Linked DNA regions of Homo sapiens. The protein of the gene in region 1 interacts with the protein of each later gene in a biochemical or structural test. Each region holds a gene or a part of one and is shown in the gene's direction. Other genes may lie near its edges. The genes, in order: CFP, TXN, CTSG and AZU1.

What was found.
Region 2: the proteins of CFP (region 1) and TXN form a complex in vitro, tested with the Homo sapiens proteins (one study listed by BioGRID).
Region 3: the proteins of CFP (region 1) and CTSG form a complex in vitro, tested with the Homo sapiens proteins (one study listed by IntAct).
Region 4: the proteins of CFP (region 1) and AZU1 form a complex in vitro, tested with the Homo sapiens proteins (one study listed by IntAct).

The regions. Positions count from the first base shown.
Region 1 is NC_000023.11:47,626,931-47,634,456, reverse strand, and holds the start of CFP (properdin precursor), read left to right. Parts: upstream 1-4,526; 5' UTR 4,527-4,612; coding exon 4,613-4,688; intron 4,689-4,782; coding exon 4,783-4,933; intron 4,934-6,179; coding exon 6,180-6,355; intron 6,356-6,815; coding exon 6,816-6,986; intron 6,987-7,124; coding exon 7,125-7,316; intron 7,317-7,510; coding exon 7,511-7,526. UniProt on the Homo sapiens protein: A positive regulator of the alternate pathway (AP) of complement. It binds to and stabilizes the C3- and C5-convertase enzyme complexes. Inhibits CFI-CFH mediated degradation of Complement C3 beta chain (C3b).
Region 2 is NC_000009.12:110,243,297-110,246,538, reverse strand, and holds the end of TXN (thioredoxin), read left to right. Parts: intron 1-1,695; coding exon 1,696-1,761; intron 1,762-2,319; coding exon 2,320-2,382; 3' UTR 2,383-2,729; downstream 2,730-3,242. UniProt on the Homo sapiens protein: Participates in various redox reactions through the reversible oxidation of its active center dithiol to a disulfide and catalyzes dithiol-disulfide exchange reactions.
Region 3 is NC_000014.9:24,573,233-24,580,680, reverse strand, and holds CTSG (cathepsin G preproprotein), read left to right. Parts: upstream 1-4,430; 5' UTR 4,431-4,457; coding exon 4,458-4,512; intron 4,513-5,226; coding exon of another isoform or gene 5,227-5,268; coding exon 5,269-5,416; intron 5,417-5,870; coding exon 5,871-6,006; intron 6,007-6,181; coding exon 6,182-6,436; intron 6,437-6,870; coding exon 6,871-7,044; 3' UTR 7,045-7,163; downstream 7,164-7,448. UniProt on the Homo sapiens protein: Serine protease with trypsin- and chymotrypsin-like specificity. Also displays antibacterial activity against Gram-negative and Gram-positive bacteria independent of its protease activity.
Region 4 is NC_000019.10:823,406-830,849, forward strand, and holds the start of AZU1 (azurocidin preproprotein), read left to right. Parts: upstream 1-4,431; 5' UTR 4,432-4,441; coding exon 4,442-4,499; intron 4,500-4,824; coding exon 4,825-4,981; intron 4,982-6,156; coding exon 6,157-6,301; intron 6,302-7,302; coding exon 7,303-7,444. UniProt on the Homo sapiens protein: This is a neutrophil granule-derived antibacterial and monocyte- and fibroblast-specific chemotactic glycoprotein. Binds heparin.

The DNA.
Region 1 (7,526 bases):
TACAAAAGAGCTGAGCAAATGAGACATGCCAAGTGACCACGTGACAGTGTGTGAGAAACTTGTAAAGCTGTGCACGTGTGTCCGTGATGAGCTGACCATATGAAGAAAATGACGGTGTGCACGACTGAGAGGGCATGGGTGACTGTGGGTGACTTATCGAGGGCCTAGTGGTGATTGTGAAATACTGACCGAGTATATCAGAAGCTGACTGAGGGACAGTGATGACTGAGACAGTGGCTGAGAAACGGATTGTGTGTCCATGGGTAAACCCTTTGCAAGAGACTTTATGAAAGGCTGTAAATCAAGGACTGAGGGTACTGGAAGCTGATTGAGAAGAAACGTGAGACTAGGTGACGACAGTGTCTGAGATACTGTGTGATTGTGTATGCGTGTGAATGTCTTTGTGGGAGAGGCTGTAATCAGGGATCGTGGGTGTGTGAAAAAGTGGCTTGAGTGAGAAAGGGGTAGGAGAGGTGATTTTTGTGCATGTGTGGGAAACTTCATGAGAGACTAGTTAGTGGTGACTATAAATCAGTGACTATTTGTGTATGTGAGAAAGTAACAGGCCAAATGAGTGCCTAAACGTTTCATGAGATTGTGTGACTGCACGTGTATGTAAGGAACTGACTGGTGAGAGAAACTATTGGCAATATTGACTGAATGAGACAGGCTGTTAAACATGATTGTGTGTGTGAAACTGTTAGGAGACTGTAGTAAGGCTGGAATCCATGACACAGAAAATGACTATGAGTGACAGAATGTCTGAGAGGCTGTGTGATTAAGAGAATATAGTAGAGGCTGTAAATCCGGACTGGGTGCGGTGGCTCATGCTTGTAATCCCAGCACTTTGGGAGGCCAAGGTGGGAGGATCACTTGAGGCCAGGAGCTTGAGACCAGCCTGGGCCACATGGTGAGACCCCGTCACTACTAAAAATTTAAAAAATTAGCATAACGTAGTGTTGTGCACCTGTAATCCCAGCTACATGGGAGGCTGATGTGGGAGGACTACTTGAGGCCAGGATTTTGAGTTTGAGACCAACCTGGGCAACATAGAAGGACCCTGCCGCTACCAAAACAAAAAACAAAATTACCCAGGTATAGTGGTGCATGCCTGTAGTCCCAGCTACTGAGGACACTGAGTTGGGAGGATCGCTTCAGCCCAGGAGTTTGAGTTTGAGACCAGCCTGGGCAATGTGGCAAAACCCTGTCTCTCCAAATAGTTTAAAAAATTAGCCAGGTGTGGCGTGTGCCTGTAGTCCCAGTTACTCGGGAGGCTGAGGTGGGAGGATGGTTTGAGCCCAGGAGGTTGAGGCTGTAGTCTGCGATCACGCCACTGCACTCCAGCCTGGGTAACAGAACCAGACCCTGTCTCGAAAAGAAAAGAAAGAAAAGAAAAACATAACTGTGTAGATAGGTTTAAAAAAAAAAAGAGAGAGAGAGAAAATAACAGACCAAATGAGACTGTGTGAGAGGTCTAATGCCCTGCAGACCCTCGAATGTTCCAGGCCCTGGAGAAAAACCCTCTTCTGTTTTTCCTGTTCCTCCACAGGCCCCTCCTGCTCAGTCCGCTGGGCTGGCTTCTCCTACTTCTCTAAAACTTGAAATGCTGGGGTTCCCCAGGGCAAAGCCCTGGGATTCCCTTCTCTCTTCTCACGCATCCTCTCTAGGTCATCTTATCCAGGTCTTCACACTTGAAATACTACTTATCCTCCATGGGATGCCCACATTTTTACCTCTAACTCAGACTGTCCTTCTGGCATTTTATCGTAATCTCTAAAGTTTTGTTTATTTCATTGATTGATTCATTTAGCAGATGTTTATTGAGCATCCACTGTTTCCTGGTGCCTATCTAATGCCCTGCAGACCCAGCAGTTAACAAGCCAGACAAAAATCCCTGCCCTTGTGGAACTGATATTTAGGGAGTGAGAATAACAAGAAGCAGGCAAATACATAGTAGCAGGTAGGGATGTAATAATTAAATAAGACAAGACTCTCACTCTTTGTTTAAGGAATCTGCAGTCATTTTATTGCCTAAACGTGTGGGAAAAGATAGAGTGCTGACAGTCCTCTTCCACAGGGAATCCTATGAGTATTTATACAGTTTAGAAACAAAGGAAATATTGTTAATATTATTACCAGGGCAACAGGTGGTTAAATAAAGAAGCCAGCCAGAATTTCAGGTTTCTTTCTTTTTTTTTTTTTTTTTTTTTGGGACAGAGTCTCACTCTGTCGCCCAGGCTGGAGTGCAGTGGCACGATCTCAGCTCACTAGAGCCTCTGCCTCCCGAGTTCAAGCGATTCTCCTGCCTCAGCCTCCCAAGTAGCTGGGATTACAGGCATCCGCCACCACGCCTGGCTAATTTTTGTATTTTTAGTAGAGACGGCGTTTCACCATGTTGACCAGGCTGGTCTCGAACTCCTGACGTCAGGTGATCCACCTGCCTCAATCTCCCAAAGTGTTGGGATTACAGGCGTGAGCCACCATGCCTGGCCAGTTTCAGGTCTCTTGGAGAGTGTTTTCACAGGATAACACAGCAATGATTGTCTTGAAGTCGTAGAATCTTAATAAGACTCCTTTGTTCAAAGCACATTTTCAAGGATAGCCTTATGTTATCAGAGAACAGAGTATGTCTGTAATGGATACAGATATTAACACATACTTTACTGCCCATAAAACAAGTGTTCCTGAAGAACTTCTGTTTTAACAGCTGACCAAATTATTACATTTGAATTTGCAGAATTCCTCTGCCTCCCTGAGAGCAGAGGAAATTAGGCATTGCCTTCCTATCTTTCTTGTGCTTCTTTTTGTTAATTAAAAGCAAAATAAAAATTTTAAAGTGGGCCCTGGAGTTTCATTAGGGTTTATAAAAAAAAAATAAAAAAATAAAAAAAAAAGAAGGGCTGGTGTGATGGCTCATGCCTGTAATCCCAGCACTTTGGGAGGCTGAGGTTGGGAGAAAATATTGAAGCCAGGAGTTTGAGACCAGCCTGGGCAACACAACGAGACCCCATCTATACAGAAAATAAAAACATTAGTTGTGTGGTGGTGTGTGCCTGTAGTCCCAGCTACTTGGGGACGCTAAGGTGGGAAAATCACTTGAGCCCAGGAGTTTGAGGCTGCAATGAGCTATGATCAGACCACTGCACTCCAGCCCAGGTGACAGCAAGACTCTGTCTCTTTAAAACAAAACAAACAAAAAAACAGGTTTGGAAGCTACTGGGCTAGAGAGTGACAGGGATGCCAGACAAGGGTATGGGGAAGGCCTCTGTGAGGAGGGGCAACATTTGTTATCCATCTTCTCGAGGGCCAGGATTTTTGTCTGTCCTATTCTCTGCTCTAATGCTAAGAACCGCATCTGGCATCCAGTAGGTGCTCAATAAATGTTGAATAAATTTATCAAACACAGAGCACCTACTATATGCCAGGCACTGTTCTAAAGACTTTCCAAAAGCTTAACTCCTGGCCGGGCACGGTGACTCACGCCTGTAATCCTAGCACTTTGGGAGGCCAAGGCAGGTGGATAACCTGAGGTCAGGAGTTCGAGACCAGCCTGGCCAACATGGTGAAACCCTGTCTCCACTAAAAATACAAAAATTAGCTGGACATGGTGGTACACGGCTGTAATCCCAGCTACTCAGGAGGCTGAGGCAGGAGAATTGGTTGAAATCGGGAGGCAGAGGTTGCAGTGAGCCGAGATCGTGACACTGCACGCCAGCCTGGGCGACGGAGTGAGACTCCATCTCGACAAAACAAACAAAAGCTTAACTCGCAATCTTTGCAACACACCCTACCTATGTTGTAGGTGCTGTCTGTGAGCACATTTTACAGAGGGGAAACAGGCTCCAGAAGGGGGGTGTTATCTGCCTGAGGGTTCTCTGATGGAATATGGCCCAGCTTATTCCCTCCTAATCACCCCAGACCCTGGTGTTGTCCCCAGCTGGGCCCATGGAACAATGGATAGACCCCATTCCCCTCCTGAATCCCTCCCCAGGCTCCTGCCACTTCCCTTTCTCACTTCCCTTGTGCTGACCTCCCCGACCACAAGCTGACCACAGGGAACCTCTCAGGAAAGGAGGGCCGAGGTTAAGGGAGGGTGGAAGGTGGAGCAACTGACTCGATGCTCCCTCCACCCCCACGAGCAGGAACATACTGAGCACCGCACACTCACTTCACCCTGGTTCAACACCCCCACGAGGTTGACCCCGTCATTATGTTAGAGATTATGCATTTTCCACATAGGGAAACTGAGGCTCAGGGGTGTTAAGTGACTCACCCAAGGTCACACGGCTAGGAAGTTGCTGCACGCTCCTATGCTCCATTTCCTCTGGGTGAGAATTTGTCCTAGGAGCTTCTATTGAACACTGTGAGGTTGCTGGGAGGAGCGCGAGGTGCTGGGGATATAGTAACAAACAGAACAAGACCAAGAGTAAGACAGGAAATGGGGAGGGGAGAGTAGAGAAGGAGGCAGAGGGGACAGGGTGGGGTCAAAGCAGGATGCCCTCCCAGTTCCTCCTGCCTCTAGGTTCCTCTTTCCCTGCTGATTCCAGGAGCCTATCAACCCAGATAAAGCGGGACCTCCTCTCTGGTAGAGGTGCAGGGGGCAGTACTCAACATGATCACAGAGGGAGCGCAGGCCCCTCGATTGTTGCTGCCGCCGCTGCTCCTGCTGCTCACCCTGCCAGCCACAGGTGAGGGGGTGAGGGCCCAGCTGGCCCCAGGGGTGTCCAGGCCCACCACATCCCTGACCGAGCCCCACCCACCCATCCCCTGGCCCTGTTACAGGCTCAGACCCCGTGCTCTGCTTCACCCAGTATGAAGAATCCTCCGGCAAGTGCAAGGGCCTCCTGGGGGGTGGTGTCAGCGTGGAAGACTGCTGTCTCAACACTGCCTTTGCCTACCAGAAACGTAGTGGTGGGCTCTGTCAGCCTTGCAGGTTAGGGGGAGCCTGGGGTGGGGGATGGGGGGGAGGGAAGGACTGTCTGTGGGGGTCACCCAAAACTGGGCACTTTCTTTCTCTGGGACTTCCAAGGGTGGCCCTGAGGCCCTGATCGTGACCATACCTCAGGGTTTCTCAACCTTGTTACTATTGACATTTGGGGCTGGAAATTCTTGGCTGGGGGAGGGGATTGCTTACCTGTGTATTGTGGGATGTTTTGTAACACCCCTAGCCTTCCACTAGATGCCAGTAGCAATTCTCCCCACCAGCTGTGACAACCAAACATGTCAGCAGACATTGCCAAATGTCCCCTGGGGGTCAAAATCACCCCTGATTGAGAACCACTGACATAGCTCACACATATTGAGCACCTCCTGCACACTGGAAGCATTGCAGGTGGGGTGCAGCTTGGTATTTCCCTAATTTTGATGACAGCTCATGTTTATTGAGTGCTTACTGTATATGGACACACTGTGGGGGCGGGAAAGTTTGGGGAATTCAAAGGGCAGCTCTAGGCCCCTAATTATGATGACACTTCACATTCATTGAGCACTCCCTGTATACCAGCTGCATGGCAGGGTTGGGAGATGAGCTTGAGGATTTCTGAGGGTAGCTCTAGTCTCCTGATCATGATTTCCAGCTTGCATGGATTGAGCCCTTACCGTATGCCAGACCTGTTTTCTACTTGTTTACTATATATCCCAGATACACCGTGGGCATGGGGAGCTTGGGGATTTTTGAGGGCAGCTCTGGGCCCCAAGTCATGTCAACAGTTCATCACATCTATTTGGCATGAACAGCATACCTAGGGCTATGCAGTGGGTTGGGGATAGATCTGGGGTTATTTCTGAGGAGGCCTCTGAGGTCATAGGGATGATGGCTCAGGTTTATTAAGCACTTTCTATTTACCTACTACCGTGTAGTGTGGTGATCTGGTGGGTTTCTGACAGCAGCCCTTGGTTTCTAGTCCTTACCTTTGCTTACTGCGGACCTGGTGTTGGCCATGCAGCCTTCCAATGGTAACTCCAGATGCCTGATTGTGAAGGTAAATGACATTATCAAGCACTTATTGTATATCCACTGCTTCCCATCAGTATCCCAATATCCCTAAAAGGTAAGGACTTATCAATCCATCGCACACGCACTTGCCTAGCAACCCTTCGTGTCTGCCCACACTCTGGAGTCCCACATGCCATTCTTGTTAGCTCATGCCAGGATGGGATGTGTGTGCTCTTCTCCACAGGTCCCCACGATGGTCCCTGTGGTCCACATGGGCCCCCTGTTCGGTGACGTGCTCTGAGGGCTCCCAGCTGCGGTACCGGCGCTGTGTGGGCTGGAATGGGCAGTGCTCTGGAAAGGTGGCACCTGGGACCCTGGAGTGGCAGCTCCAGGCCTGTGAGGACCAGCAGTGCTGTCCTGGTGAGGAGGATGAGCAAGGCGGGCAAGCACTCCCTGTCACCCAGCACTGGTGGGAACGATCGGTACAGAGGTCCTCAGAGTGGGCCCGTCCCCAGTGTTTGTAAGGACCTAAGGAGGAGAGTGGTGGGAGGTGAGGTCAGAGAGGTGAGGAGGGTCCATTGCCTGGGGGCCACAGAGAGGACGTTGGCTTTTCATCTGAGTAATTTGGACTGTGGGCAGAGGAGGAACGTGATCTGACTGGGGTTGGGAGGAGAACAGACTGTGCACGGTGAGGGTGAGAGGGGAAGCGGAGGCACCCATGTGAAGGTTGCTGCGGCAGGCCCGGTGAGCGGGGATGGTGGGCCCAGAATGGTGGCAGAGGATATAAGGACAGGATTAGCTCATGTGGGGCACTCAAGGAAGCAAAGAGCCCTGAATGACACCCCACCTCCATCCCATTACCCTCTCTTCTCTCCCACAGAGATGGGCGGCTGGTCTGGCTGGGGGCCCTGGGAGCCTTGCTCTGTCACCTGCTCCAAAGGGACCCGGACCCGCAGGCGAGCCTGTAATCACCCTGCTCCCAAGTGTGGGGGCCACTGCCCAGGACAGGCACAGGAATCAGAGGCCTGTGACACCCAGCAGGTCTGCCCCAGTGAGTGAGGGAAGCCACAGGATGCTGATGGGTGCACCCAGCGTGGGTCTGCGGGGTTACAGCAGGGAACTGCCAGGCTGAGAGGACTTTAGCATGCATGACCACACCTGCATCCCTCCACCTCCCACCCCACCACAGCACACGGGGCCTGGGCCACCTGGGGCCCCTGGACCCCCTGCTCAGCCTCCTGCCACGGTGGACCCCACGAACCTAAGGAGACACGAAGCCGCAAGTGTTCTGCACCTGAGCCCTCCCAGAAACCTCCTGGGAAGCCCTGCCCGGGGCTAGCCTACGAGCAGCGGAGGTGCACCGGCCTGCCACCCTGCCCAGGTACACCAGGATGAGGCTGCTGATGTTGCTGGTGGGGCTCTTGATTGAGGGCAGAGATGCTCTGCCATTTCTAGAGTTCCTAGGCCATGTGACCATGCAGCCCTTCATTTGGGGACAGTCTGCTTCAAGGGTCTAGGGGCTGAGAGGAAGGATTGAGGAGGCCTTTCTCCTCACTCCCTTTCCTCCTCCAACAGTGGCTGGGGGCTGGGG
Region 2 (3,242 bases), on another chromosome or scaffold:
TGGTTCTATATTTCTTTCCCAGTCCTCTTTTGAGTGCCTGGCTGACATTTTCAATCTCTATTGGGCTCCAAACCAAACCAGTTTCGTGGTATTGTCCTCCAAACCTTGCCCTCTTATAGCATGAACAATGTGTTGAGCATGGGGTATTATAAGAGTTCTCATTTAGCATTCCACAGTTGAGGAATGTGTGTTACTTCAATTACCTTTGAGCTGTAGAAAAATCTTTAGCTGTGGTAACAGCCACTTCTAGGAGAGGAGAAAATACGGATCAACTAGCCCAATTTGCGATGTTAGGAATTTGTCGATTTTCTTAGTAGGATGGCTTTCAAAGGTTAGAGCATCAGAGTCACCTGAAGCCCGACTTTAACTGTAATGGTTTAAGATGGGGTTGATGGGGAAACTTGTAGTACCCCTCAGGTAATTCTGATACTGCAGCAAGGTTTGAGAATTCACAAAGTCTTTTTATTTTTCCTCCCGAGATAGTCTCATTCTGTCGCCCAGGCTGGAATACAGTGGCATGATCTCAGCTCACTGCAACCTCCGCCTCCCAGGTTCAAGCAATTGTCCTGTCTCAACCTCCTGAGTAGCTGGGATGACAGATGTGTGCCACCACACCTGGCTAATTTTTGTATTTTTAGTAGAGATGGGGTTTCTCCGTGTTAGCCAGGCTAGTCTCGAACTCCTGACCTCAGGTGACCCACCGGCCTTGGCCTCACAAATCAGTTTTTAATTAAAAATAAGCAGGAGGCTGAGTGTGGTGGCTCACACCTGTAATCCTAGCACTTTGGGAGCCCGAGGAAGGTGGATCACTTGAGCTCATGAGTTTGAGACCAGCCTGGGCAACATGGAGAGACCTTGTCCCTATAAAAAAAAAAAAAAAAAAATATATATATATATATATATATATATATATATATATAGTGTGTGTGTGTGTGTATATATATACACACACACACACAAAATTAGCCAGGTGTGGTGGCGTGTGCCTGTAGTCCCAGCTACTGGGGAGGCTGAGGAGGGAGGATGGCTTGAGTCTGGGAAGTGGAGATTGCAGTGAGCTGAGACTATGCCCCTGCATTCCATCCAGCCTGGGTGACACAGCCAGACCCTGTCTCAAAAATAATAATAATCAGTAAACCCAGTGTGGGGTTATTCCTTTAGATTACTATTATTTTGTTCTTGAACAATTGATTTTTATTTTTTTAGACTTTTTAGCCTTTATATAATCATTCTGTGTACTCTGCCTTCATAATAAAACTGGAAAAATTATGAGCAAGAAATAAGAGGTACTAGTTCTGAGGAATAGTTAAGATTATCATACTGAGTCCAATTGTAGCAGAATTTTTTGTTGCTTCTTTGTATGATACTTAAAATAGTTGAAAATTTGATTGGATTAAAGAGCATATTGGATCGCTGGAGTATCTGATGCTAGTAACATTCTGAACATTCTGCCTGTTAATGTGCCCGTCAAAGGAAGTAAATATTAATAAAACTTCTTCATTGAGAATATAACCGGTTTGGCTTTTGTAATGCCATTATATTCATTATATTAATTTTCATATGCTGAAAAATGTCCTCATGCGGAAATGTGGGGTACATGACAGGGAAAAGTTTCTGGTTTTGGATTACTTCTGTCAAAGCTCAGTACTCGCAGTCTTGTATTTAATCCTCTCCCTTTGCTACTTTCCCTACCAGGATGTTGCTTCAGAGTGTGAAGTCAAATGCATGCCAACATTCCAGTTTTTTAAGAAGGGACAAAAGGTACGTACATCTGACCTTTAAAACTCTAACTGGGCAATAGGAAACCCAGTATAAGTGAATAAATCACTGGAGTGATGTTCCCTTTAAAGATTGAGGCATATCACCAAGTTCTGCTTTTAAGAATTTTTAAATATGCCAAAATTCATTGGCTTAAGTACATAATGTGACAGCTAACTGAAAATCAATCTTTCCTAGAACTAGTCCTATTTATATCATAAAGCACATAGAATTTCTTAGACTTGGGCAGTTCATTTGTTGTTAAGTATTGTGTAAAAGAAAATTTGTACTTGAGCCTTTTGACTTTTCTCTTGATATTTTTTCTTTGTTTATAACTTAAATGAACTGTATGTTATTCAGGGAAGTTTACTTTAAATAAGATTATACTTCTTTTTCCCTCCACCCCTATTCTTCCTTCATTCTATGCTGAATACATATTTATACATATGTATATATATACATATGTATATGTATATATATAAATACATATTTATACATATTTTATGTATAAAACAGTGCTACAGTGCTACGTCTAATGTCAATTCAATATTCTCTTAACAGGTGGGTGAATTTTCTGGAGCCAATAAGGAAAAGCTTGAAGCCACCATTAATGAATTAGTCTAATCATGTTTTCTGAAAATATAACCAGCCATTGGCTATTTAAAACTTGTAATTTTTTTAATTTACAAAAATATAAAATATGAAGACATAAACCCAGTTGCCATCTGCGTGACAATAAAACATTAATGCTAACACTTTTTAAAACCGTCTCATGTCTGAATAGCTTTCAAAATAAATGTGAAATGGTCATTTAATGTATTTTCCTATATTCTCAATCACTTTTTAGTAACCTTGTAGGCCACTGATTATTTTAAGATTTTAAAAATTATTATTGCTACCTTAATGTATTGCTACAAAAATCTCTTGTTGGGGGCAATGCAGGTAATAAAGTAGTATGTTGTTATTTGTTATCTTTTGACAGAGAAAATAGCATTCTCTGTTTTAGCAGGTGAATCCTCTATGCTCTCCAAAAGATCAGCATGACCAAAATTGATGTCCACTCATGAAGGACTTGTTCGTTTTGTTTGTTTGTTTTGCCACGAGGATCGGATCTTGATTCTCCTCGAAGTATCTGAGAAAGTCTAGTTGTATAGGCCAGACATAGGTTCTGTCTTGAGTGGTAAAAGTTGTGGGAAATTATTACTTATATCATTCAAAGAACATTGTTTCTTGTGTTCTAAGCACAGTAAGGGGTTGGGGGTTTGAAGAAACTTTTTGAGTTTACATAATAATGAAGAGCAGAATTATCATATGCCAGGTATCATCTTTCTATTAATTCACTTAATCTTTGTAACAATCCTATTAGATATAGACACTATAATCCCCATTTACCTGTGAGGAAACAGACAAAGGGTGGTAATTTCCCCAGCATCACAACTAGTCATTGGAGGAGCTGGGATTTGAACCAAAGAAGTCTGGTACCA
Region 3 (7,448 bases), on another chromosome or scaffold:
TCCACTTACAGCAACCTCAGCCTCCCCAGTTCCCCAAGCGATTCTCCTGCCTCAGCCTTCCGAGTAGCTGAAGTTACAAGTATGTGCCACCATCCTGGCTAATTTTTTTGTGTATGTTCCTAGTAGAGACAGGTTTTCACCATGTTGGTCAGGCTGGTCTCCAACTCCTGACCTCAAGTGATCGACCCGCCTCGGTCTCCCAAAGTGCTGGGACATGGGTGAGCCACTGCACCTGGCCAGATTTCTGAGTTCTTTATGTAATTTGAATATAAGCCCTTTGTTGTTTATGTGTATTTCAAGCATCTTTGCCTACTCCATGAATGGTCTTTTGTTTCTCTCAATTTAGATGTGTCAAATTCATCAGTCCTTTTCTTCATTATTAGTACTTTATATACAGTACTAAAATCTTTACCTATCATGAAGATATTCTTCCATTATATATTCAAATCATTATTCCTACTTGGATCCATAATCTACCTAGAATAGGTTTTTTGATATTTTGGGAGAAGAAGGTCAAGTTTTATTTTTCCACATAGAAAATATTTGTCTCTATAGGACACCATAAAGGCAATTTATTATCCCAGTACCATTTATTGGGGATAAAAAAAGAAAATAGTCTTTTCCCTATTATGATGAAAGATGCAACATCCATCATAAATCAATCCATCCATGTGTATGTCAGCGTCCACATGCGTGTGGAGTCCTTATTTCTGGTCCATTAGTCCATGTTTCTATGCCTCATCAATACCACGCTATCTTCATTCCCATGGCTTTGTTTGCAAAAGCAAGTCTTCCATCTTATTCTCATTCTCTAATGGTGACCTGGCTATCATTAGCCTTTTGTTTTCCAAATATACTTACAATCAGTTAAGTTCTATAAAATACCGCTCGGTGCAATGAATCTATATAGATCAATTTTGGGAGAGCTGACATTTTTACAATATTTAGTCTTCTTCCAATCTATGAACATGGAATCTCTTCATGTTTAGGTCTTCTTGAATGTCTCTTCATTCAGTTTTATAATTTTCACCAAAGAGGTCTTTCACATATTCTTTTAGATTTACATTTAGTTATTTGATCATTTCCATGCCATTTAAGTATTACTTTCTAAAAATTTCTTTCTAACAGTGTTGCAGTACATGTAGAAATATGATTAATTTTTAAATTGATTTTTTCTAGCAAATCTGTAAAACTCTTATTAATTATGGTAATTTACCTGTAGATGATTTTGGATTGTCTACGTATACTATCACTTCCTCAAATCATTACAATTTTGTTTTCTCTTTTCCTGTCTTTATACCTTTCATTTCCATTTCCTACCTAACTGCACTGGCTAAAACTGCTAATGTACTGTTTGTTGAACAGAACTGATAATAATTTGTATTCAGGCATTATTGTAATGTTTTGCTCTCAAAAAAAGGTTTTAACACTTTTCCATTAGGTATAATGATTGCTGTGGGAATTTTGTGATAACTTCTATCAGATTAAAGACACTCTTTTTATTCCTAGTCTGCTAAGAGTATTTTTTAAGTAAATAAGGGTAAATTTTAGGCCTTCATTGTTTCAATTAAATAATCACATGATGTTTCTTCTTTAGTCAGTTCATATGATGTGTTACAGCAATTTTGCTTTTCAAATGAAAAGTCAACTATGTGTTCCTAGAATAAACCCAAATTACTTATGATATATTAATATCTATTTGCTTATTGATTGATTTGGTTTGCATCAATATTCAAAAGTTTATTGACCTATAATGTTTCATTTCTATATTGTCTCTATTGGGTTTGGCATGGAGGTTATGCTAGTCCCATAAAGGGAAGGGTAGCATCCGTTCTTCAGAAGAAACTATATAGCATACTTTAAATATTTTCTACAGATTTCTCCTTAATGTGGTCATCAAAAACAAAAGTTGAAATTTTGTGGATTCAGCACATTCCCTTGGAACAATAGCAGCTTCCTAACTAGACTCTCATTATTCCTTCAACTTGATCTGATAGTCACTTCAATGCTGGTAGTTCTTCGAGGTTTGTAAGCTTTTTAGATATCTTAAATAGCTTTGATTACTTTTAATGAGAAGATTGCATGAAATTCTAGGTCACTATTAATGAAATTTCCTAATCAATCTTTATTACATGAGTGAATGCATATATTTTACTCCTTTTTTTTCATATGTGCAGGTTTTTCTTTATCCCTTTCTTCTATTTTTAAGTTAAACTAACATTTTTAAAACAAAACAAAATGTTGAAAATTTTTAATAAATTAAATTATGCCAAATGCTAAGGCACTAATAAAGGTGCTATACTATTCTCTCTTTGCTCCCTTCTTCTTCACGTTACTTTTCAGATGCATAAAGACGTTTTATAGAGCCTGTACAAGAGAAGAGGTTAAGCTCTGTGCAGCTCTAAAAATAAGTGAAAAAATTATATATTTATGTATAAGGAAAGGAACCCTAATTTTCATGAGATTTTCAAGAGGGCCTATTATACTCCATAAAGACTGGGAATTGTATCTCACACCAATCAGAATGGCTATTACTAAACAGCCAAAAAATAACAGATGCTGGCAAAGTTGCAGACAAAAGAGAACACTTATACACTGTTGGTGGGAGCAGTTCAACCATTGTGGAAAGCAGTATGGTGATTCTTCAAAGAGCTAAAAGCAGAACTACCATTCGATCCAGCAATCCCATCACTGGATATTTACCCAGAGGAATATAAATCATTCTACCATAAAGACACATGCACGCAAATGTTCACGGCAGCACTATTCACAAAAGCAAAGACACGGAATCAATCTAACTGCCCGTCAATAGACCAGATAAGGAAAATGTGGTACATATACATTGTGGTACATATACATATGCAGTCATAAAAAAGAATGGACTCATGACCTTTGCAGGGACATGGGTGGAGCAGGAGGCTATTAGCAAACTAATGCAGGAAACCAAATAATACATGTTAGTTAGCAAACTAATGCAGGAAACCAAATAATACATGTTCTCACTTATAAGTGGGAGCTAAATGATAAGAACTGTGAACACAAAGAAGAAAACAACAGACAGTGGGGTAAGAGGAGGGAGAGGAGCAGAAAAGATAACTATTGAGTGCTGGGCTTAATATCTGGGTGATAAATATGTACAACAAATCCCCGTAACATGTGTTTACCTATGTAACAAACCTTCACATGTACCCCCAAACCTAAAATAAAAGTTAAAAATAAATACCTAAGTAAAAGATTTTCAAAATAAAAGACAGAAAAAAAGAGATTGGGAATTGTATTAGTCTTCAATTCTGCTATTTCTGCAAAAATTATACTGGATTATAACGGTTTTCTGTGCATACACAGAATCTTCTAAATATTTTAAGTGTTTTTAATAATCCATTGTGTTACTCTGCAGTAATTTGCTGTTCTTTTCTCCCATTGTTGAGTATGCGGCTCTAATTCTTTTATAGGTAGCACAGCAATGAATGTACCTCCTTCTCAGAAGCTTTTGCTCCTGGGATTAGGTTGATGGGCCTCTAATGTCACCAGTGAAATGGGATATTAGATATTTTCCAGCTAGGATACGACAGCTCCCAATAAAACCAAATTACTAAGCCTTTTCTGCAAGCAAGGAGCCGTCTGGAACATAAGGACTTTAACCTTGGGTAGGAGACAGGCAAGCAGAAGTCTTCAATTGTGTCACAATTTTCACTGAGGACTCAAGTGACCTAAGAAAGTAATTGTGATTGTCAGAGCCTTGTTCTTCCTTTTCTTTCTCCAGCCGCACGCTTCACCTACTCAGGAGAGTGCCTACGCAATCTGACTTGACAGCTTCTAGAAAGAAATTAGAGCAACAGGGGTCTCAGCAGGGTGGTCTTGGGCCAAACACTGAAAGCAGGCAGGCTTACCCTTTCCTCTTCTGCCCCCTTCAACTTTTTCCTGATGTTCTTACCCACATCCCTCACCACACCACACCCTTTCATTCATCCTTGTCCCAGACTTATTAAGTATATACAGATAAGCAATCCAGGGAACTTGCATTCATTAGGAGAAACCCAGAAATTCAAAAGCAATAATGATCTAATCCCAGAGGAGTAGAAAACAGGAAGTGGGCAGCTGCCAGCTTTCTTGCTTTGCTGGAGTATTCTGGAATTTGATGGGTTGAGGGTTCTGGACACAATGCCCCAAGCCCCTTCCTTGTTGTGCTGGGTTCCTATTTCTGCTCTCGGCACTGACTTAGCAGCTGCTCAAGAGCTCACTATGTTGGCTTGGATTACACGGTCTCACCCACATCTCCGGCAGTTTGTGGGCAAACTTCCTGAGCAGCCTTGGGTGATGAAACCTTTCATGGTAGCAGGAGAATGGGACTGTGAATTCTCAATCCCCTGTCCCCACCCCTTCCTTCCTCTCTCAGGGCCTTAAAGTCTAGGAGGAGGAAGCACAGCAGCAACTGACTGGGCAGCCTTTCAGGAAAGATGCAGCCACTCCTGCTTCTGCTGGCCTTTCTCCTACCCACTGGGGCTGAGGCAGGTGAGTGACCATCCCCACCCTCAGAGGCCTGACCTCATCCCATAGATTCTTGAGCCAAATTGCCTTGGTATATCCTAATTCTGTACTGTTGAGCAAGTTATTTGAATTTGTGTTTCCTCATCTATAAAATGAGAATAATATTAATACCGATCTTGCAGAGTTGCCATGAGAGTTAAATAAGTTAGAGTATTTAAATGTCTTGGAATTGCCCGCACACTATAAGTGCTATAAAAACATGCTTTGTGTAAATAATTTGGCAGCATGTGTCAGACCCTACCTAGGAGGTAAGAATACAGCAATAACAGTACCATCAGCTCATGTCTAGATTTTTAAACACCAGTCCCACGTGGTCTTGAATTGGACTCAGAGGGCTCTGGGAAGCTCCATGAGGATAAAAGTATAAGGGAACTTCAGGAACAATCCTGTACTTACAGCAAAGCATTCTCCTCAATACCTGAGGCTGAAGCTGGCCTTGCCTGGAACAAGGGTTGTTCTCCCTCTTTTGGAGAGGAGGAGGGAGGTGAGGCCTAGGATGGGGAAAAGGGCTCCTTTCAAGACAGCAGTGTTTCCTGTAGAACCCTGGAGCCCCCTCCCAATCTGCTGCCCCATAGACTCCAAGCCTCAGCACCATCTCCTCCCTCTCCTGCACCCTCTCTCCTGCCGTCCCCATCTTCCAGCCTTTCTGGAGCCACCAATCTGGTACCCACATTGCAGGTTCAGCAAGCATAGAGCTAAGTGCCAAATGCTTCCTTCCAGGGGAGATCATCGGAGGCCGGGAGAGCAGGCCCCACTCCCGCCCCTACATGGCGTATCTTCAGATCCAGAGTCCAGCAGGTCAGAGCAGATGTGGAGGGTTCCTGGTGCGAGAAGACTTTGTGCTGACAGCAGCTCATTGCTGGGGAAGGTGAGGAGCTAAGGAACTTCCTGGCCAGCCAGGAACACAGCCCTGCGGAGCTCTTCGGTGGAAGAGCCATCTGAAAGAAGAGTTGTAGCAATGAAAGGGTGAAAGAAAGACCAAGTGAGTCTTTGCGGGAGGGAACAGGCCAGTGTAAATGAGGAGGAAAGGAGGATAAGATCAAAAAGAGCAAGAGGAAGAGATGGAAGACACATATTGGGGCTCAAAATATAAACTCAGGCTATTTATCAACTTAATCTGGGGAAGCAAACCTGAAGGCAAGTACCACCCTGTCATCCCTAGCTCAGAGCTGCTGAGAAAGAGGATACAGCTGAGCCCCAGGGCCCTCCCATCCCCTCGATTCTGGTTAGCTGCAGTCTTGCCCTCCCCGTGCTGTCTGCCTACCCTGCAGAGCTGGTGGACCATAGCTCCTGCAGCCCAGACCTACCTCTTGCTTTTGCAGCAATATAAATGTCACCCTGGGCGCCCACAATATCCAGAGACGGGAAAACACCCAGCAACACATCACTGCGCGCAGAGCCATCCGCCACCCTCAATATAATCAGCGGACCATCCAGAATGACATCATGTTATTGCAGGTACCACCTACCTGGCCCTCTGGCTCCTTCCTAGTGTGTCCGGGGACAATGGAGGAGGAAGTGAGGGCAAGGCTCCGGGGTGGCGGGGAGGGCATGGGATGTGTACTGCACCAGCGACCCCCGAGCCTTGGCTGGAGGCCCCAGCTGAGCGGGAACGCCTACATTCTTCCTCCAGCTGAGCAGAAGAGTCAGACGGAATCGAAACGTGAACCCAGTGGCTCTGCCTAGAGCCCAGGAGGGACTGAGACCCGGGACGCTGTGCACTGTGGCCGGCTGGGGCAGGGTCAGCATGAGGAGGGGAACAGATACACTCCGAGAGGTGCAGCTGAGAGTGCAGAGGGATAGGCAGTGCCTCCGCATCTTCGGTTCCTACGACCCCCGAAGGCAGATTTGTGTGGGGGACCGGCGGGAACGGAAGGCTGCCTTCAAGGTAAGGCATGGGCATTGGCCAACACACCCCGGGAGAGAGGGGCCCGTGCAGAGCCAGGCAGTGCGAACAGATTCCATCCCCACAGCCTCAGCCTGGCAGCCAGACCAGGGTGGGCTGGGGATTGTTTTCCCCATCAACCTGGTCTCTGGGGGAATAGGAGGAAGACCCACAACACATACATAGGCAACATTCTCCTGGAGAAGGGAGAGGTACCTTGACTCAGATTGGGCTGGAGACAGTAATTAAGGCAGAGCTGAAGTCCAGCGACCGAAAAGATCCAGAGGCTTGGCTCCTGTACCCCACCGATCTTCCATCTCACACACACCCAGCAATTGAAGGGGCCCACCCACCCCTGCCTTCCCTGAGAGCCCGGAGCTCAGGGAAGCAGGAGCAGGGAGGCCTGTCTCAGTCTCCCTTCTCCTCTCTACCTACAGGGGGATTCCGGAGGCCCCCTGCTGTGTAACAATGTGGCCCACGGCATCGTCTCCTATGGAAAGTCGTCAGGGGTTCCTCCAGAAGTCTTCACCAGGGTCTCAAGTTTCCTGCCCTGGATAAGGACAACAATGAGAAGCTTCAAACTGCTGGATCAGATGGAGACCCCCCTGTGACTGACTCTTCTTCTCGGGGACACAGGCCAGCTCCACAGTGTTGCCAGAGCCTTAATAAACGTCCACAGAGTATAAATAACCAATTCCTCATTTGTTCATTAAACGTCATTCAGTACTTAGTTTGTTTGGATTGCTACAACAAAATAGCACAAATTGGGTGGCTTATAAATAACAAATTTATTTCTCACAGGTCTAGAGGCTAAGAAGTCTAAGATCAAGTCACTAGCAGATTCAGTGTCTAATTAGGGCCCATTTTCTGGTTCACAGACAACCATCCTCTCCCTGTGTCCACATATGGCAAAAGGGGCAAGGGAATTCTCTGATGTCTCTTTTACAAGGGACCTAGTCTCATTCAAAGAGCTCAGCTTTTACGACCTAATCACATCCCAAAGGCCCCACCTAAT
Region 4 (7,444 bases), on another chromosome or scaffold:
CCCTCCAGCCTGGGCGACAGAAGGAGACTCTATCTCAAAAAAAAAAAAAAAAACAAACAAACAGTGACTCCAGAGGGTTGGAGCCCTGCTAGATACCTTAGTTTGCTCATAACAGGCACTGCTGCCCCCGGGAAGAGGGTCGCCTGCCATAAATGCGGAAACAGTTAAATGGCGATGGGAATAGGATGGGAACTCAATGGTGTTGCTACCTTTGGATGGACTCGGAGGCAGCCCAGCTTCCTGGGACAGGACTGCACGGACTGCCTGGGGAGGGGTCTTTGGCCCCCCGGTTCCTGCAGGGGGGCTCGGGGAGGCCCTGTGAGCAGTTGGTCACAGGTGGGTCCCATTCGATGCGATCCTGTTCCTCCCCAACAGCCCTGGAGAAGGGGGACGTTGCCTGCTGTGGCTGCGGCTGTTTTCCTGGCCTGTGAGAGGCGGGGCCAGAGTGGCCGTTGGGAATCTGGGTGTTGCAAGGTGACCACAAACAGCTCTCTGGGGGAGGAGGAGGAAAATGCAATTGATTTTCAGGAGCCTTCTGAGGTCAGGAGTGGGAGAGTGTGCAGGGGGACCCTCCTGGCAGCTTGGGGGTCCAACAGAAGATCTGGGGGAGTCTCAGGGTCTTCTCCCCCTAGGATCACCAGTGGTGGAGATGGGGCAGGCCTGGCCATGGAGGGCACGTTGCTTGGCTGAGGGGCCTGGGCTTGAGTGTGGGGCCTGGGCTTGAGTGATGGGAGAGTTCCGAGCAGGCCGGAGGGGTTGAGCGTACCAGACGCTGCTCAAAACTTTTATTTAAAAATGATTATTATTATTATTACTATTATTTTGAGATGGACTCTTGCTCTGTCGCCCAGGCTGGAGTGCAATCGTGCGATTTCAGCTCACTGCAACCTCCCACCTCCTGGGTTCAAGTGATTCTCCCTCCTCAGCCTCCCGAGTAGTTGGGATTATAGGCGCCTGCCACCACGACGGGCTAATTTTTGTATTTTTAGTAGAAAGAGGATCTCCCCATGTTGGTCAGGCTGGTGTTGATCTCCTGACCTCAGCTGATCTGCTGCCTCAGCCTCCCAAAGTACTGGGATGACAGGGGAGCCACGGAGCCCAGCCTTTTTTTTTTTTTTTGGGAGACGGAGTTGCACTCTGTCGTCTAGGCTGGAGTGCAGTGGCGCGATCTCGGCTCACTGCAAGCTCCACCTCCCGGGTTCACGCCATTCTCCTGCCTCAGCCTCCCGAGTAGCTGGGACCGCAGGCGCCCAGGACTATGCCCGGGTAATTCTTTTGTATTTTTAGTAGAGACGGTGTTTCACCGTGTTAGCCAGGATGGTCTTGATCTCCTGACCTCGTGATCCGCCCGTCTTGGCCTCCCAAAGTGCTGGGATTACAGGCGTGAGCCACCGCGCCCAGCTTTTTTTTTTTTTTTTTAATAGAGAGAGGGTCTCACCATGTTGCCAAGGCTGGTCTCAAACTCCTGGGCTCAAGTGATCCTCCCACCTCGGCCTCCCAAGGCACTGGGATTACAGGCGTGAGCCACCACGCCCGGCCTCAAAAACTTTTCAGAATATGAACCCCACTCCATGCTCAGCACTGTTCTGTCTAGAAGGCAGAGTCTATCCCTGTCTCAGGGCACACTGACGTGCAGACAGCGAGCTCGCCCTGAGGTCATGCGACTGGGAGGGACAGAGCTTCCGGCTCCCGGCAGAGGGGAAATGGGGCCTGGCCCACGGGAGAGCTGAGGCCCACGTTTGGCCAGGACAGGGTGGATGGAGGCTGGGGCCTCCGCAGGGAAGATGGACAGGTAGGATCCGGGGTGGGCAGAGAGGGAGAGCTGGCTTGGACGGAGGCAGGGATCTGGGGGCTGTGCCATGGACCCTGTGAGGTGGCTGGGCTGTGAAACTCAGTGGAGACCGGAATTATTATTATTATTATTATTTTTTTGAGATGGAGTCTCACTGTCTCCCGGGCTGGAGTGCAGTGGCACGATCTCGGCTCACTGCAAGCTCCGCCTCCTGGGTTCACGCCATTCTCCTGCCTCAGCCTCCTGAGTAGCTGGGACTACAGGCGCCCACCACCACGCCCGGCTAATTTTTTGTATCTTTAGTAGAGATGGGGTTTCACCGTGTTAGCCAGGAAGGTCTTGATCTCCTGACCTCATGATCCGCCCGCCTCGGCCTCCCAAAGTGCTGAGATTACAGGTGTGAGCCACCGCTCCCGGCCTGGAGACCAGATTTGAGCCCTGGGACCCTACATTCCCGATGGGCAGCGGACCTCAAGGCACACCGGCCCCGCCTCCCTGGACTCTCCCCGTATCCGCCCCTTGGAGGGGCAAACTGCCCTCAGAGGGCTCCCACAGGCCCAGACACAAACTGGTGTCCCCAAGGGTGTGGGGGACACGGTAAGCTCCAGACCTCAGTTTCACCTTGGAAATGAGCCCCTTTGTAAAAAATGGAGGTGAGTTTGGACGCAGTAGCTCACACCTGTGCTCCCAGCACTTTGGGAGGCCGAGGCAGGTGGATTGCTTGAGCTTAGGAGTTTCAAACCAGCCCGAGCAACATAGTGAGACTCCACCTCTACAAAAAAATACAAAAATTAGCCGGGCATGGTGGCATGTGCCTATGGTCCCAGCTACCTGGGAGGCTGAGGCAGGAGGATTGCTGGAACCCGGGAATCGGAGGCTGCAGCGAGCTGAGATCGTGCCACTGCACTCCACCCTGGGCAACATAGTGAGATCCCATCTCTACAAAATATACAAAAATTAGCCGGGCACGGTGGCGGGTGCCTGTGGTCCCAGCTACTCGGGAGGCTGAGGCAGGAGGATCAGTTGAACCCAGGAGATTGAGGCTGCAGTGAGCTGAGATGGTGCCGCTGCCCTCCAGCCTGGGCAACAGCGAGACCTCAACTCTGAAAAAAACAAAAGAAGGAGATGAAATTTACATAACTTAAAATTAGCCATTTTGAACGGTACAGTGAAGTGGTTTTCGGTGCATTCACCGACTTGTGCAACCATCACTGCTGTCCAGTCCCAGAACATTCCATCACCCCAAAGAAGGAAGCCCCATCTCCATCCATCAGCCATCACCCCCTGCCCTCCCCCGGCCCCTGGCAACCACAGATCCACTTCCTGCCTCTGCAGATTTGCTTGTTCTGGACATTTCGTCTATTTATTTTTATATAGTTTTTAATTTGTTTTTATTTATTTTTTTTGAGACGGAGTCTCTCTGTGTCACCCAGGCTGGAGTGCAGTGGCGCAATCTCGGCTCACTGCAACCTCCACCTCCCAGGTTCAAGCGATTATCCTGTCTCAGCTTCCCAAGTAGCTGGGACTATAGGCGCCCGCCACCACGCCCAGCTAATTTCTTTTTTTTTTTTGAAATGGAGTTTTGCTCTTGTCGCCCAGGCTGGAGTGCAATGGTGCGATCTCGGCTCGCTGCAACCTCCGCCTCCCAGGTTCAAGTGATTCTCCTGCCTCAGCCTCCTGAGTAGCTGGGATTACAGGCATGTGCCACCACGCCCAGTTAATTTTGTATTTTTAGTAGAGATGGGGTTTCTCCATGTTGGTCAGGCTGGTCTTGAACGCCCAACCTCAGGTGATCTGCCTGCCTCGGCCTCCCAGAGTGCTAGGATTACAGGTGTGAGCCACCGCACCCAGCTTGTCAATTATATCTCAATAAAGCTGTTGAAAAAGTTTAAAAAAATCACCCAATCGGGCACAGTGTTTCACACCTGTAATCCCAGCATTTTGGGAGGCCGAGGTGGGTGGATCACCTGAGGTCGGGAGTTTGAGACCAGCCTGGCCAATATAGTGAAACCCCATCTCTACTAAAAATACAAAAAATTAGCCAGGCGTGGTGGTGGACAACTGTAATCCTAGCTACTCAGGAGGCTGAGACAGGAGAATCACTTGAGCCTGGGAGGCGGAGGTTGCAGTGAGTCGAGATCACACCATTGCACTCCAGCCTGGGCAACAAGAGCGAAACTCCGTCTCAAAATAATAATAATAATAATAATAATAATAATCACCCATACAGACGCGCAGGACTCAACGCAGGACTGCCAGCTCCACTGCCCTGAGCCCCCCGGTGCCAGGCCCAGCGGGCAGTGCTGGAGCCCCAGTGGCTTGGGATGGGGAGACTGGGACTCTGAGCTGGCAATGTTCCTGGGTGCTGGCTGCATGCCCGCCATGTGCTGGGCTCCGGGATCCACTGGTTCCTGACACCCTCACCTGCCCCTGGGGGTGTGGCCATCTTCTAGAGAGGGAAACTGAGGATCAGTGCAGAATGTAGGGGGAGCCCAGGCTGGCCCAGGGAGCAGTTGGCGGTGGAGGCCTTGGGCAATTTCCCGTGTTCCCACTGAGTGGGGCTGTCCCTGGGCCTGGGCGGGGACGCCACCAACTGCCAAGGCCTGTGTATAAGGGCAGCCGCCGCCTTAGCCACAGACCTGCCCCGCCATGACCCGGCTGACAGTCCTGGCCCTGCTGGCTGGTCTGCTGGCGTCCTCGAGGGCCGGTGAGTGCCTCTCTGTGCCGGTGGTCCCCCATCTGTGCTAGGGCCCGGCTGCCAGGGCAGAACTCAGACTTAAAGCACAGAGAAGGCAAGCGGCTTGGCCTGGGTCACACAGCCAGCCCGGCCTGGACGATCCCGCGAAAGGCGTGAGGGCGGACGGTGTGCGGGACTCAGGGGCCCCCTGTCCTCTTAGGGAGTGGGACGATGGGGGAGGGTGGGTCCCCCCGCAGCCCCACTGGGTGGATAGAGCTGAGGCTGCAGCTTCACACGCCCTCCCGGCCACTGTGTGGATTCTTGGGGATCTCAGAGCTGTCTCCCCCCGACCCAGGCTCCAGCCCCCTTTTGGACATCGTTGGCGGCCGGAAGGCGAGGCCCCGCCAGTTCCCGTTCCTGGCCTCCATTCAGAATCAAGGCAGGCACTTCTGCGGGGGTGCCCTGATCCATGCCCGCTTCGTGATGACCGCGGCCAGCTGCTTCCAAAGCCAGTGAGGGGTCCTGGGGAGGGGGCCTAGGGGGCATTGGGGCTCAGAGAAGGGGCTTGGGGGGCTTAGGCATTCAGTGGGGGTGCTTGGTAGGTGAGGAGGGGAGGGGATTGCAAAAGGAGGGGCTCAGGGAAAGGAGGGGGCTTGGAGAGGGAAATGGGGACTGAGTTGAGGAGGGACCCAAGGATATTGGGGGGCTCAGATGGAGGAGGCCCAGAGAAGGGAAGGGGGTCAGATGGAGGAGGCCCAGAGAAAGGAAGAGGCTCAGATGGAGGAGGTGCAGTGAAGGAAAGGGGGTCAGATGGGGGAGGCCCAGAGAAGGGAAGGGGCTCAGATGGAGGAGGGGGCCCAGAGAAAGGAAGGGGCTCAGATGGAGGAGGTGCAGAGAAGGGAAGGGGGTCAGATGGGGGAGGCCCAGAGAAGGGAAGGGGCTCAGATGGAGGAGGTGCAGAGAAGGGAAGGGGCTCAGATGGAGGAGGTGCAGAGAAGAGAAGGGCCTCAGATGGAGGAGGTGCAGAGAAGGGAAGGGCCTCAGATGGAGGAGGTGCGGAGAAGGGAAGGGGGTCAGATGGAGGAGGTGCAGAGAAGGGAAGGGGGTCAGATGGGGGAGGCCCAGGGAAGGGAAGGGGCTCAGATGGAGGAGGGGCAGAGAAGGGAAGGGGGTCAGATGGGGGAGGCCCAGGGAAGGGAAGGGGCTCAGATGGGGGAGGCGCAGAGAAGGGAAGGGGGTCAGATGGAGGAGGTGCAGAGAAGGGAAGGGGGTCAGATGGGGGAGGCCCAGATAAGGGAATGGGGTCAGATGGGGGAGGTGCAGAGAAGGGAAGGGGGTCAGATGGGGGAGGCCCAGATAAGGGAAGGGGCTCAGATGGAGGAGGTGCAGAGAAGGGGAGGGGGTCAGATGGAGGAGGCTCAGAGAAGGGAAGGGACTCAGATGGAGGAGGGGGCGCAGAGAAGAGAAGGGGCTCAGATGGAGGAGGAGGCGCAGAGAAGGGAAGGGGCTCAAGATGGGAAGGGGGCCCTGGAAAGTCTCGGCTCTGCTTCTGTAAAAGCGGGGGAGTTTTCAGGGTGAAGGATTGCAGTCTGCAGGCTGGGATCCCCCCTAATTTGCAAGCCGGCTTGCTCTGTGCCCAGGCCCCAGCCTGGTGTCCTCCCTCTGCCCTTTCCTCCGCTACTCTCAGGAACCCCGGGGTTAGCACCGTGGTGCTGGGTGCCTATGACCTGAGGCGGCGGGAGAGGCAGTCCCGCCAGACGTTTTCCATCAGCAGCATGAGCGAGAATGGCTACGACCCCCAGCAGAACCTGAACGACCTGATGCTGCTTCAGGTGAGAGGATGGTGCCACCTGTGATCCCAGCACCTCGGGAGGCCGACGTTAGCCAGGGAAACAAGTCCAAACTTGGTCTCTACAAAAAAATACAAAAATTAGCCGGGAGTGGTGGCGCGCACCTGTGGCCCCTGTGCTTCAGGAGGCCGAGGCGGAAGGACGGCTTGAGGTCAGGAGTTCGAGACCAGCCTGGGCAACATGGCCAAACTCAGTCTCTACAAAAATATATATGTGTGTGTGTGTGTGTGTGTGTGTGTGTGTGTGTGTGTATCTTGCCGGGTGAGGTGGCTCATGCCTGTAATCCCAGCATTTTGGGAGGCCGAGGTGGGCGGATCACGAGGTCAGGAGATTGAGACCAGCCTGGCCAACATGGTGAAACCCCATCTCTACTAAAAATACAAAAATTAGCCAGGCATGGCAGCGGGCGCCTCTAGTCCCAGCTACTCAGGAGGCTGAGGCAGGAGAATCGCTTGAACCCGGGAGGCGGAGCTTGCAGTGAGCCGAGATCGCGCCCCTGCACTCCAGCCTGGGTAACAGAGCCAGACCCTATCTCAAAAAAAACTTCCAAAAACAATACAGCAACACATACAGATGTACCACGGTTCGCGTATGGAGCCTCCTGTTGGTGGAGACTGACGTCGTTTTCAAATGCTTTTGCTATGACAGAATCATGTGAATGTTTTTCATGTTTGGTTTTTTTCTTTGAGAAAATGATAAAATTATCTCAAAAATATCATTAAAAAATTTAAAAAAGTAGAGACGGGGGTTTCACCTTGTTGGCCAGTTTGGTCTCGAACTCCTGGCCTCAAGTGATCCACCCACCTTGGCCTCGCAACGTGCTGGGAATACAGGCGTGAGCCACCGCACCCGGCCCCTGCCGGGAATTAAACGCAAACCACTTACAGACTACAGTTAATGTCGCTGACACTTCTGCTCCCAGGGGTCCCCATGAGGCTCCAGTCCCCAGGGCCACCCTCCCCTGACTCCATTTCCTTCCCCAGCTGGACCGTGAGGCCAACCTCACCAGCAGCGTGACGATACTGCCACTGCCTCTGCAGAACGCCACGGTGGAAGCCGGCACCAGATGCCAGGTGGCCGGCTGGGGGAGCCAGCGCAGTGGGGGGCGTCTCTCCCGTTTTCCCA